Linked DNA regions of Homo sapiens: region 1 is linked to region 2. A link means that fine-mapping ties the variant in region 2 to the expression of a gene that starts in the linked region. Tissue or cell type: whole blood. Region 2 holds a variant in brackets; the other region holds the start of a gene. Each region is shown on its reference strand, or each on the opposite one.

The links. PIP is the estimated chance that this variant, and not a neighbour inherited with it, causes the effect.
Region 1: it holds the start of SHD, and the variant in region 2 is the best candidate, but not a certain one, in a credible set for the expression of SHD in whole blood (TOPMed, PIP 0.74).

Annotation. Positions count from the first base shown.
Region 1 is chr19:4,276,414-4,281,413 of GRCh38, reverse strand. SHD (Src homology 2 domain containing transforming protein D) reads right to left here and starts at 2,148. Exons shown (of 6, transcript NM_020209.4): 1 at 1,054-2,148. The coding sequence starts at 1,350.
Region 2 is chr6:22,077,059-22,082,577 of GRCh38, reverse strand. All of the region lies in intron 8 of CASC15 (cancer susceptibility 15), which reads right to left. Among named protein-coding and RNA genes, the nearest start is that of NBAT1, 67 kb to the left of the region's middle. The variant T/C (reference allele first, on the strand shown) is at 3,281.

The DNA of each region.
Region 1 (5,000 bases), not on the chromosome of region 2:
GCAGTGGCGCAATCATGACTCACTGCAGCTTTGACCTTCTAGGCTCAAGTGATCCTCCTGCCTCAGCCTCCTGAGTAGCTGGGACTATGGTGTGCACCACCACAACTAGCTAATGTTTTGATTTTTTTTTTGTAGAGACAAGGTCTCACTCTGTTAGCCCGGGCTGGTCTCGAACTCCTGGGCTCAAGCAATCCTCCCACCTCGACCTCCCAAAGTGCTGGAATTACAGGCATGAGCTACTGCACCCGGTGGCCTGGGTTCAAATCCTAGTAAGCTAGAACCCCGTGAGACCTTAGCCAAGTCACTACCGTTCTGCGAGCCTCAGTTTCGCTTCTGTAAAACGGGAACATAGTGGTAGGAAGGGCAGCATCACCGGGAGGATATTTAGGTGCCCAGCAGGGGAGCAACTCACTCAGATCTATTTTAGGAAGATCCCACCAGGTTCCAAGAGGAAGGGGTGCTGAGGGGAGGGGGCTGGGGGACTGCAGGGGATGACCATGGAGGAGGAGGAGGACCCGGAGACCAAGCAGGGTGGTCAGAGAGGCAGAAGGACAACCAGCATTATGCATTGAAAAGGGACAGATATCCACCGGGCGCAGTGACTCACACCTGTAATCCCAGCACTTCGGGAGGCAGAGGCGGGAGGATCACCTGAGGTCAGGAGTTTGAGTCCAGCCTGGCTAACATGGTGAAACCAGTCTCTACTGAAAATACAAAAATTAGCCGGGTGTGGTGGCACACACCTGTAATCTCAGCTACTGGAGAGGCTGAGGCAGGAGAATCGCTTGAACCCCAGGAGGTGGAGGTTGCAATGAGCCGAGATCCCACCACTGCACTCCAGCCTGGGTGACAGGGGGAGACTGTCTCAAAATAAATAAATACATAAAAAGAACAGACTTCCCCAAGCAGGTGGAGGTCTGGAGGACTGGGAAGGGTCTGTCTGGTGCCCCAGTCCCCTCCTGTGATCACACATAAAATAAGCTCTCCACGATCCAGAGAGCCCATCCTGAGCCTCCCCTCCACCCAGTCTCCCCAGGCCACCCAGCCACGCACCTCCTCCCCGGGGCCGCCCAGAAGGGCCTTGGCTCTGGCCATATCCGCAGCCTCCACCTTGATGAGCCGGTGCTTGGGAGAACCATACTTGGCATCTCCGGGGTTCTTGGAGTCCCCAGGGCCCGCGGGGTCCGGCTCCAAGCGGCTCTCCGCGTCCTCATAGGGGTCCTCGAAGTCCAGGTTCTTCTGCGCGCGGTAGGCCCTCAGGATGTCGCTCTCGGTGTAGTCCGGGGTGGGCGGCTGCGGAGGGGGCCTCCGACCCCCAAAGCTCAGGTAGTCCCGTAGCCACTTGGCCATTTGGGCGCCTGTCACCCCAATCGGGCCACTGTCAGAGGGGCCCCCACATGCCCTTCTCCGGGCCCCTTTCCCCAAGGAGGAGGAGGAGGTGGAGAGGAAGGGAAGAGCAGGGAAGGATGAGAAAGATCAGGTGCGCCCTTTGGCGGGGCTCTGGATGGATAGAGGGAAGGAAAAGGTGAACGAGGGGGAGGAAAAGGAGGCGACAGAGGAGGGAGGAAGAGAAGCCCGCCTTAGCCCAGCTTGGGAAGCACCGCGGGGGAAGGGGGGACCTCGCAGGGCCCCGAACCCCGCGCGCTGGGGGCTAGGGCGAGGGGCATCCGCGGAGGCGCGCGGAGTTTCCGCGGGCAGCGCGGTTCCCTGGAGCGACACGGCCGCCCGCCGCCTCCAGGAAGCTCCGGGATCCCTTCCTGGGGTCGGGAGATCCGGGCCAGCGCCACCTGCGGACGCTCCCGGCCCCTCTCCCAGCCCGGACGCCTGGGTTCTCAGCGCAGCGGGCGGGCTCCCCAGGGGCGCGGGCGCCGCGCGCAAAGTTGGGCCGCGGAGACTGTGACCCCGGCGGGACGCATCCTTTGTCGCGCTCCTCTCGGCTCAGCGGGGAGCCCCCAGTCCCGCGGCCCCCGCCGCCTCGATCCGGCCCCAGCCACCCGCACAAAGGGAAATAAAAACCTCCTCCAATCCCCCTTCACGCTTTCGGAGAGACTTTCCCCGCCGCCGCCGGGAGGTGGGACGCTGGGGAGGGGGGCGCGCAGGAGGACGCCCCTGTTCCCACCAGCCCCGGGCCGCGTCCCGGGCAGCAGCGTCAAGGCTCCCCCACCTCCCCTCCGCCGCGTCCCCCGCCCCTCCCCTCCCCCTGCGCTCCCCTCGGAGGTGACTGAGACCTTCAGCTGTTCTGGGGAGGGAGGGAGCCGCTGCCCGCGGAGGGAAGGGGGGCTGGGGGCGGGAGTCGCCGGGGCCGAGGCCGCGGCAGCTGGACACTGACCGGGACGCCCGAGACTGGCCGCAGCGAGCGCGGAGCGCGGGAGGTGGGGAGCAGCTGGGAGTGACACTGCTGGGGAGGGGAGGGGAGAGGGAGAAGGAGGGGAGGGGGAAATTGCCCGGGAAATGGGGGACTGCACTTGACCGCCAAAAGGGGTGAAATTGACCAGCAGAGGGGGTGGGAATGACCGCCAGTGAGGGTCGAAATGGAACCGATGTCTGGCGGTGAAACGGACCGGGAGAGTGGGGATGTGCAAATTGGTGGAGAGGTCACTGGCTGAAATTGATATTGGAGCAGCAGAAGGAAGAGGGGGGCAAAGGAAGGGTGGGTGCGGATCGGGCTTCCCCTCCCCCAAGAGGGCTCTGCTCTGTGCCCCGCTCCCGCCCCAGAGGACTAATTGCGGGCAGGGGGAGGGTTGGGGGCAGCTGGCTTGGGGAAGGGAGATGGTATCTGTGCCTGGCGCCTGTCCTCTGCATCTGTCCTTTTGTGGCTTCTGGGGGCGGGGTGGGGGGGAGCGGTGGCGGGAAGAGGGGCAGAAGTGAGAGGGGTCTGGCCTGAACTGGCTGCCTGTTGTCAGCTGTCGTTGTCTGAGGGTGAGGGCACTGAGAGGTTTGGGGGGTGGGAGAGGAAAAGGGAGCCACTGGCCAATTTTCCAGTGCAGAACCGTTTTTTTTCTTTCCCCATAAGGGGGCTTGCCCAGTTCCTCCTAATGAGGGGAGTGAGAGAGGGGTGGTCAGGAAGGATGGGACCCCAGATTCTCTCCTCTTGTGGCCAGCCCCCTGGTCAGGCACAGGTCATAGCTTGGAGAGCACAGTTGGAGGACAAGACAGAAGTCAGAACCAACACTGCTATGACTGGGGCCTCCTGGCAGCCCGGCGGGGCTGAGGGCAGGGTCTGTCACTCCCTGAGTCTTGGTTTTCCTTATTTGAAAGATGTGGTTTCTAACAGGAAATCCCAGACAGCTCTAGGAAGGATTCCAGGAGGGACCGAGCTATCACCTGGCTTCCTCATTTTATGGATGGGGAAACCGAGGCACAGAGATGGGAGGGACTTGTTCAGAGCCACTCCACAGCTGATTCTGCCTGCACATCGCCGTGGGGCCTGGCCTAGGGTGGCACTGGAGTCTCTCTTTTTATTTTTTTGAGACGGAGCCTTGCTCTGTCCTCCAGGCTGGAGTGCCGTGTTGCGATCTCAGCTCACTGAAACCTCCACCTCCCAGGTCCAACCAATTCTCCTGCCTCAGCCTCCTGAGTAGCTGGGATTACTGCCACCACGCCCAGCTAATTTTTATATAATTTTATATTTTTAGTAGAGATGGGGTTTCACCACATTGGCCAGGCTGGTCTGGAACTCCTGACCTCAGGTGATCTGCCGGCCTCGGCCTCCCAAAATGCTCTTCATGGAATCGGTTCTGCAACTCCTCTCCACGATGAGCTCCATTATCCAGATGGGAAAACTGAGGCCTGGAGCCAACAAGGCAAAGCCCCTGAAGGATGCAGGCGTCTAGACCCTTCTGTTCCTCCCCTTCCCTGCACTGGCTGTGTCCCCCAACACAGACCTGTTGAACTCCTTCCTCCCTCCTGAAGTGCATGGCCACCCCCGCTTCCCCCCACCCTTTCAGATCAGCGACAAGGCTGCGTCCCTGGGGGCGGCCAGGGAGCACAGCGGGTAATTGTCCTGCTTTCTGTCAGCCGCAAGGCAATTCCGGGCCACGGGGATGAGCTGTTGACAGATCTCATCAAATCCAAGTCGTCTCCCTGCCGGATAAAACTAGATGTCTGAGGTATAAATATTTGAAAGGGGCCTTCTAATTACAATCTGTGTCAGGAATAGCAATTAGAGGCCCCGGGGCCGGAATCAAACGGCATTTGACTTTCCTGTGCTTTGGAGCTGGCTTCTCCTGGGGCTGCACCCCGACCCTACCCCAAGGAGGGGAGTGGGGAGAGGCTGGCAGGGAGAGGCAGGAGGATTAGGTAGAAGAGAAAGAGATCCAGGCTAGGGGTCCAGTCACCTTCCCCTGTGACCTTGAATCAGCCACGTAACCTTGTGAGATTTGGATTTTTCTTTTCTCCCTTTTTTTTTTTTTTTTGAGACAGGGTCTCTCGCTCTGTTGCCCAGGCTGGAGATGCAATCACAGCTCACTGCAGCCTCACATTCAACATCCTGGGCTCAAATGATCCTCCCATCTCAGCCTCCTGGTAGCTAGGACCACAGGTGCATACCACAAAACCCGGCTTTTTTTTTGCTTTTTTTTTTTTCTTACGCAGAGTCTCACTTTGTTGCCCGGGCCTGGAGTGCAGTGGTGCGATCTCGGCTCACTGCAAGCTCCGCCTCCCGGGTTCACACCATTCTCCTGCCTCAGCCTCCCGAGTAGCTGGGACTACAGGCACCCGCCACCATGCCCGGCTACTTTTTTGTATTTTTAGTAGAGATGGGGTTTCACTGTTAGCCAGGATGGTCTCGATCTCCTGACCTTGTGATCCTCCCGCCTCAGCCTCCCAAAGTGCTGGGATTACAGGCGTGAGCCACCGAGTCCGGCCGCTTTTTTTTTTTGAGGCCGAGTCTTGCTCTGTCGCCCAGGCTAAAGTGCAGTGGCACAATTTCGGCTCACCGCAAGCTCCGCCTCCCAGGTTCAAGCGATTCTCCTGCCGCAGCCTCCCAAGTAACTGGGATT
Region 2 (5,519 bases):
ACCCATTAGGTGCTTAATACGACTTGATCTGTAAAATGCTTTTCAGGTTATCCATTCATCATGCACATGGATATTTACTTAGTGTGGTGATTAAAGGGAGGAACTCCAGAGTCAGGCTGTTTGGGCTCAAATCCCAGCTTTACCAGTTACTGGCTGTATAACCTTGGGCAAGTTATGAAACCTTTTTGGAATCAGTTTCTTTCACTGCACAATGAGGAAAAGAGCAATACCTATCTCATATGATTGTAAGAATTAAATAAGTTCTACATAAAGCATTTTTAAAAGTGCCCTAGCCAGAGGAGGTCACGTCTAGCCAGAGGAATTACTTCTTGTTGCTGTTATACTATGTGACTATAAATAATACTGACTTTTTTTCCCTTTTCACTGGATTCAAAATGTTCTCTTTCAAGAAATTCCATAAAATCAGGTTTTCCCTTCTATTTTAACATCTGCCAAACTCTCTTCTTAAAGAAATTGAAATTACTTGGCTTATGGTCAAATTTAATGAAGACTGAATCTATAAATCTACAAAGACTTAGAAAGGGATTTATAAAATAGTAACTTATAACTCAATTACTATTTTAATGGCCTGGTTGTGCCTGAAAGTAATTAACTGAGCAAGATTTGAGTATGTGTGTACCTCAAAGATACCCATGACTGATCCTGTGGTGGAATCAGATGTAGTTAGAGAAACTGTGGTAACTCAAATTTTCCCAGCTCTGATCATCGCCTCCTTCATTAGATCCTATGGCCAGTTTTCTGTGTCAGGGTCCCCGTGAACACCACTGGACACTCCCACAATGGCATGGGACCCCCTCCGGGTGATAAAGCCAAAACGGCAGTGTCTGGCAAAGTGAGGAAAGGTGCTGCTGCTTTTACTGCTGTTACAGGCCGTTGGAGTAGCCCTGCTGTAGTGCTACAAGTTTCTCAAAAATTTTAGTCAAATGGCTCTGTAGCATTTTATTTATTTTATTTATGCCCTGCTGTTTGCCAACTCTCAAACTCTATGTTGTCTTATATTTTAATTTCTTTTTCCTTTTTTTTTTTTTTTTTTTTTTTTTTTGGAGACAGGTTCTCACTCTGTCACCCAGGCTGGAGTACAGCGGTATGATCATGGCTCACTGCAGCCTCGACCTCCAAGGCTCAAGCTATCCTCCCACCTCAGCCTCCCATGTAGCTAGGATTACAGGCACATGCCACCACGCCTGGCTAATTTTTTTAAAAAGTTTTTTTGTAGAGACTGGGCATGGTGGCTCATGCCAGTAGTCCCAGCATTTTGGGAGGCTGAGGTGGGAGGATCACTTGAGCCCAGGAGTTCCAGACCAGCCTGGGTAACATTATGAGACCCTGTCTCCACAGAAAAAATTAATTTTTAAAAAAATTATTTGGGCATGGTGGCATGTGCCTGTAGTCTGGGCTACTTGTGAGCCTTGACGGGAGGATTGCCTGAGCCCAGGAAGTCTAGGTGGCAGTGAGACATGATCGTGCCACTGCACTCCAACCTGGGTGACAGAGCAAGAACCTTTCTCAAAGAATAGAAAAAAGAATTTAATTTCTTAGAATTTCAATTCTATTAAAAATCATTTAACATATAGGTGTTTTGCAGTTTATATAAACAGTTTCTTATGCAAATTCCAGATAATTCTGTATTGGGGGGATCAGTTATAGATTAGTAAATGTACACATATGTATTTAAATTGTGCAAAATGAATATTACTAAGCTTTATTTGCAGGTTGGGCCTTCAGTGGCCACCACCTCTGAGTCCTGTTTCACATTGAAAACAACCGATAGAGCACACAGAAGATTCTCCCTGAAGGGGGAGAAGGTGCAATCCGTGCAGTTCTAAAGTCTTGCCAAATGACTCTAGAGCCAGTTATTGAGCTGGGGGTGAGGGTGAGAGAATCACTAGTGAGCTGATTTTGCAATTTTTATATTTGTAACCAGTTACCTAGTAAGCACATGAGAAATTTAGGCCAGGCACGGTAGCTCACGCCTATAATCCCAGCACTTTGGGAGGCCGAGGCAGGTGGATCACCTGAGGTCACAAGTTTGAGATCAGCTTGGCCAACATGGTGAAACCCCGTCTCTACTAAAAATACAAAAAAATTAGCCGGGCATGGTGGGCACCTGTAATCCCAGCTCCTTGGGAAGCTGAGGCAGGAAAATTGCTTGAACCCAGGAGGTGGAGGTTGCAGTGAGCCAAGATCATACCATTGCACTCCAGCCTGGGTGGCAGAGTGAAACTCCATCTCAAAAAAAAAAAAAAAAAAAAAAAGAAACTTAAACAAAGACAAGAAAAGAAAACTCTATTGAATATTAGAAGTCCTCCTTATATCATACTTTGCTGTTCATCATTGTTGAGTAACTGGAAGACAGCAATAATAATAATCTCAGTGCTTGTAAAGTGGTCCATACCTGTAATCTCTTTCAAAGAAAAAGTAAATTAGTTTCACAAATTAGCTTAAAGATTATTGCTGGGTTATTAGTGTTGCTACTGTTTTTACAAAAGGCCATTCATCAGGGAAGGCCAAATTCTGAGCCTTCTCCAATCCTGTAGATCTCTGCCAAGAGCCACATGTGGCCACGGAGTGAGGGTTTGACATGTGACTAGTCTACATTGCAAAATACACACCAGAATTCAGACTTCGTACAAGATATGGAATGTAAAATATCTCGGTAATTTTATATTGATGACGTACTGAAATATTTTGGTTTAAACGAAACATTATTAAAATTAATTTCCCTTGTTTCTTTTTGCATTTTTTATGTGGCTCCTAGAAGTTTTAAACTTCTTGATATGGTTTGCACTTGAGACCCATGTTACATTTCTCTTGGACTGCACTGGGCTAGCCCAGTCAGAGAAAAAAGTAGAGAAGAGTAAGCAGAACTCACAACAATCATTACAGGGAACACAGTCCTTGTCCTGGATATTCCATTCCTCAAAGTGATATGGGAACTTTGATATGAAGAAACTATGAATGGCTAACTTTCTTTCTAATAGACAAGTCTTTTAAAAGCATCAACTTATTAAATTACATCTACGGCTTTGAGGTGGTAACAGATGAATTGTGTAAATAGGGCATTACACATAAAAATTATCAATAGATGGTAGACTGTTTGGGGTGTGTTTTGGCTGACAAGTGATACAGACAAAATAATTACGCACTCATAGCCACAATTCAAAACCACTTGGCAAATGGTCTAGTTTAGTGGTTGGCAAACTGTGGCATGGGAACCAAATCCAGCCTGACACCTGTTTTATAAAAAATAAAGTTTTAT[T/C]GGAACACAGCCGTAGCCTTTCACTTCCATATTGTCTATGGCTGCTTCTGTACTAAAATAGCAGAGTTGAGTAGTTGTGAAAGAGATCATATAGCCTGTAAAGCCTAAAATATTTACTATCTGGACCTTTACATAAAAAGGTTTCTGATGCCTGGTCCATGGTTAACACTAAAGTAAGAGTGGTTCTTTTAAGTCGGATCACGTCTTTGCTCTGCTCAAACTTCGTGACTGTCTTCCCAGCTTAGAGTGAACAAGGAAAAACAGTCAGACCTCATAGCAATCAGCTTCTGGCGCTTCCTGCCCTGCCCCAGGGGGTCTCCTTGCTGGTCCTAGAATATGCCAAACAAGCACGTACTTCAAAGTCTTTCTCCTTATGGCTCCCAGGTCCCCTCCTTCACCTCCTTCAGGTCCTTGTGCAAGTATCAGTGATTGCTGTATACAAAATAGCTGCCTCCTCCCCTTTGCTGCTTTGTATTTCTCTGTAGCACTGATCAGTAACTGGCCTACCATAAAATTCACTTCTCTGTTTACTCTTTTTCCTCCAACTAAACTCCACCAGAACAGGCATTTTTGTCTGTTTTGCTTGCTGCTGTATCCTTAGCACCTAGAAGGATATCTGGCCCCCAAAATACATGAAAGAGTGAGTAGGCAGTTCACTGTTTCTCTAACCGCATATGAGCTAGAAAAAATGCAGGCAAGATATGGTTCCTACCCTAAGTGATAAGAAATATAATCAAATAATTTTAAAAAAATGTCTGGACATAGAAGATCAGACACATGGAGATAAATGCATGCCCTCTCTCCCTTCCTTCCTGCCCATCCCTATGCATCCATTCATCAATCCAATCATCCACCTGCCCAGCAAGAGAAACATTTATTGTATTAGGAGAAGCATGATGGTCTGAGGAAAGCAGTCAGCTCCAGCCATAATTAATGTTGAAAGGCTTTTTGGAAAAGTGTTGTGCACAATGGGGGCAAAACCACTGTCCAAGCAGGGATACTGAAGAAAGACATTTCCGCAGTTATGATGGCTTAGACCATTGGTCTTCAAACTTTATTCAAAAGCTATTTTTTCTATAAGAAATCTTATCGAACTCCAATATATAAATAGAAGTCTTTGATAAAGTCTTCTTTTCCTGAGGAACCCAGAGAGATGTTAACTTCCCCTTCTCTGACCCCTGTTCTCCATGGCATCAGAGGCAACTGTGTCCTTAACACTCCTTAGAACACAGTTTGAAAATGAACAATTTCTAGAAATGAGACTTCAGAGTTTTCATCGTTTTCATAATTCCAAAAACTTATTAAAAGCTAGAAAAACTTAGAAAACCAAAAAATAGGAATCTGGCTTGGTAAAATTAAGACTATGCCCCATCATAGATGTCACAGGAGATGTAATAGACATATAACGAGACATGCGTTCTCGGGTCCACTCCTAGCTCTGCCTTAATCATTTGTCGTATTATTATTATTATTATTATTATTATTATTATTAAATGGCAGCCAAGGTAAATGAAAATGTAGACATCAGCAGCAGTAACCTGATAAAGATCAAGACTCTAACGCTGCTGACAGAGCAGACACACAGCTGGGCATGAAAACGAGCTCTTATTGCAGCTCTGACTGTACGGACTGCTCTCAGAACAACCCTTTTACAATTTTCTTTCCCCTTCTTCATATCCTATTGCTAATATCTGGACATATGCTTCTGGGAAAACAGAAAGGTCTGCTTTTCTGTTAAATATTTTAGTTGCTTATCAGCCTAGGCAACTGTTTGAACTCACCTGAAAAGTTAAGTGATAAATCACTGTCATTTATTACCACCAATCAGAAAAAAAAAATCATGCAATTTATCAACATCATACTATAAATACTGAGATAGGAACTTTCATGTAGTACAGGAACATGTTTACACAAAGTGTTGGAGTCTTACGTTGTATTGATTGCTTTAAACAAAGAAATATTTCATGTGTGTATGTTTGTGTGAATATATACACATATATATATTCTACATTTATACTGTACCTGAACAAATACTTCTATTTTTCTTTTTCTAAAAAGTAAAACTAAAATTAAATTTGTCTCCGTGCCTCTTACTGTCTGCAACAAACGACTCTTAACCACCAGAGGCAATACCATAATATTCAAGAAAATACCTTCACCTTGGGCTTTGACATCAGCAAAGTGTTTAAAGATTAATTACCTGAAAGCTTAGGGTAATTTTACTGGATCAAATAGATAA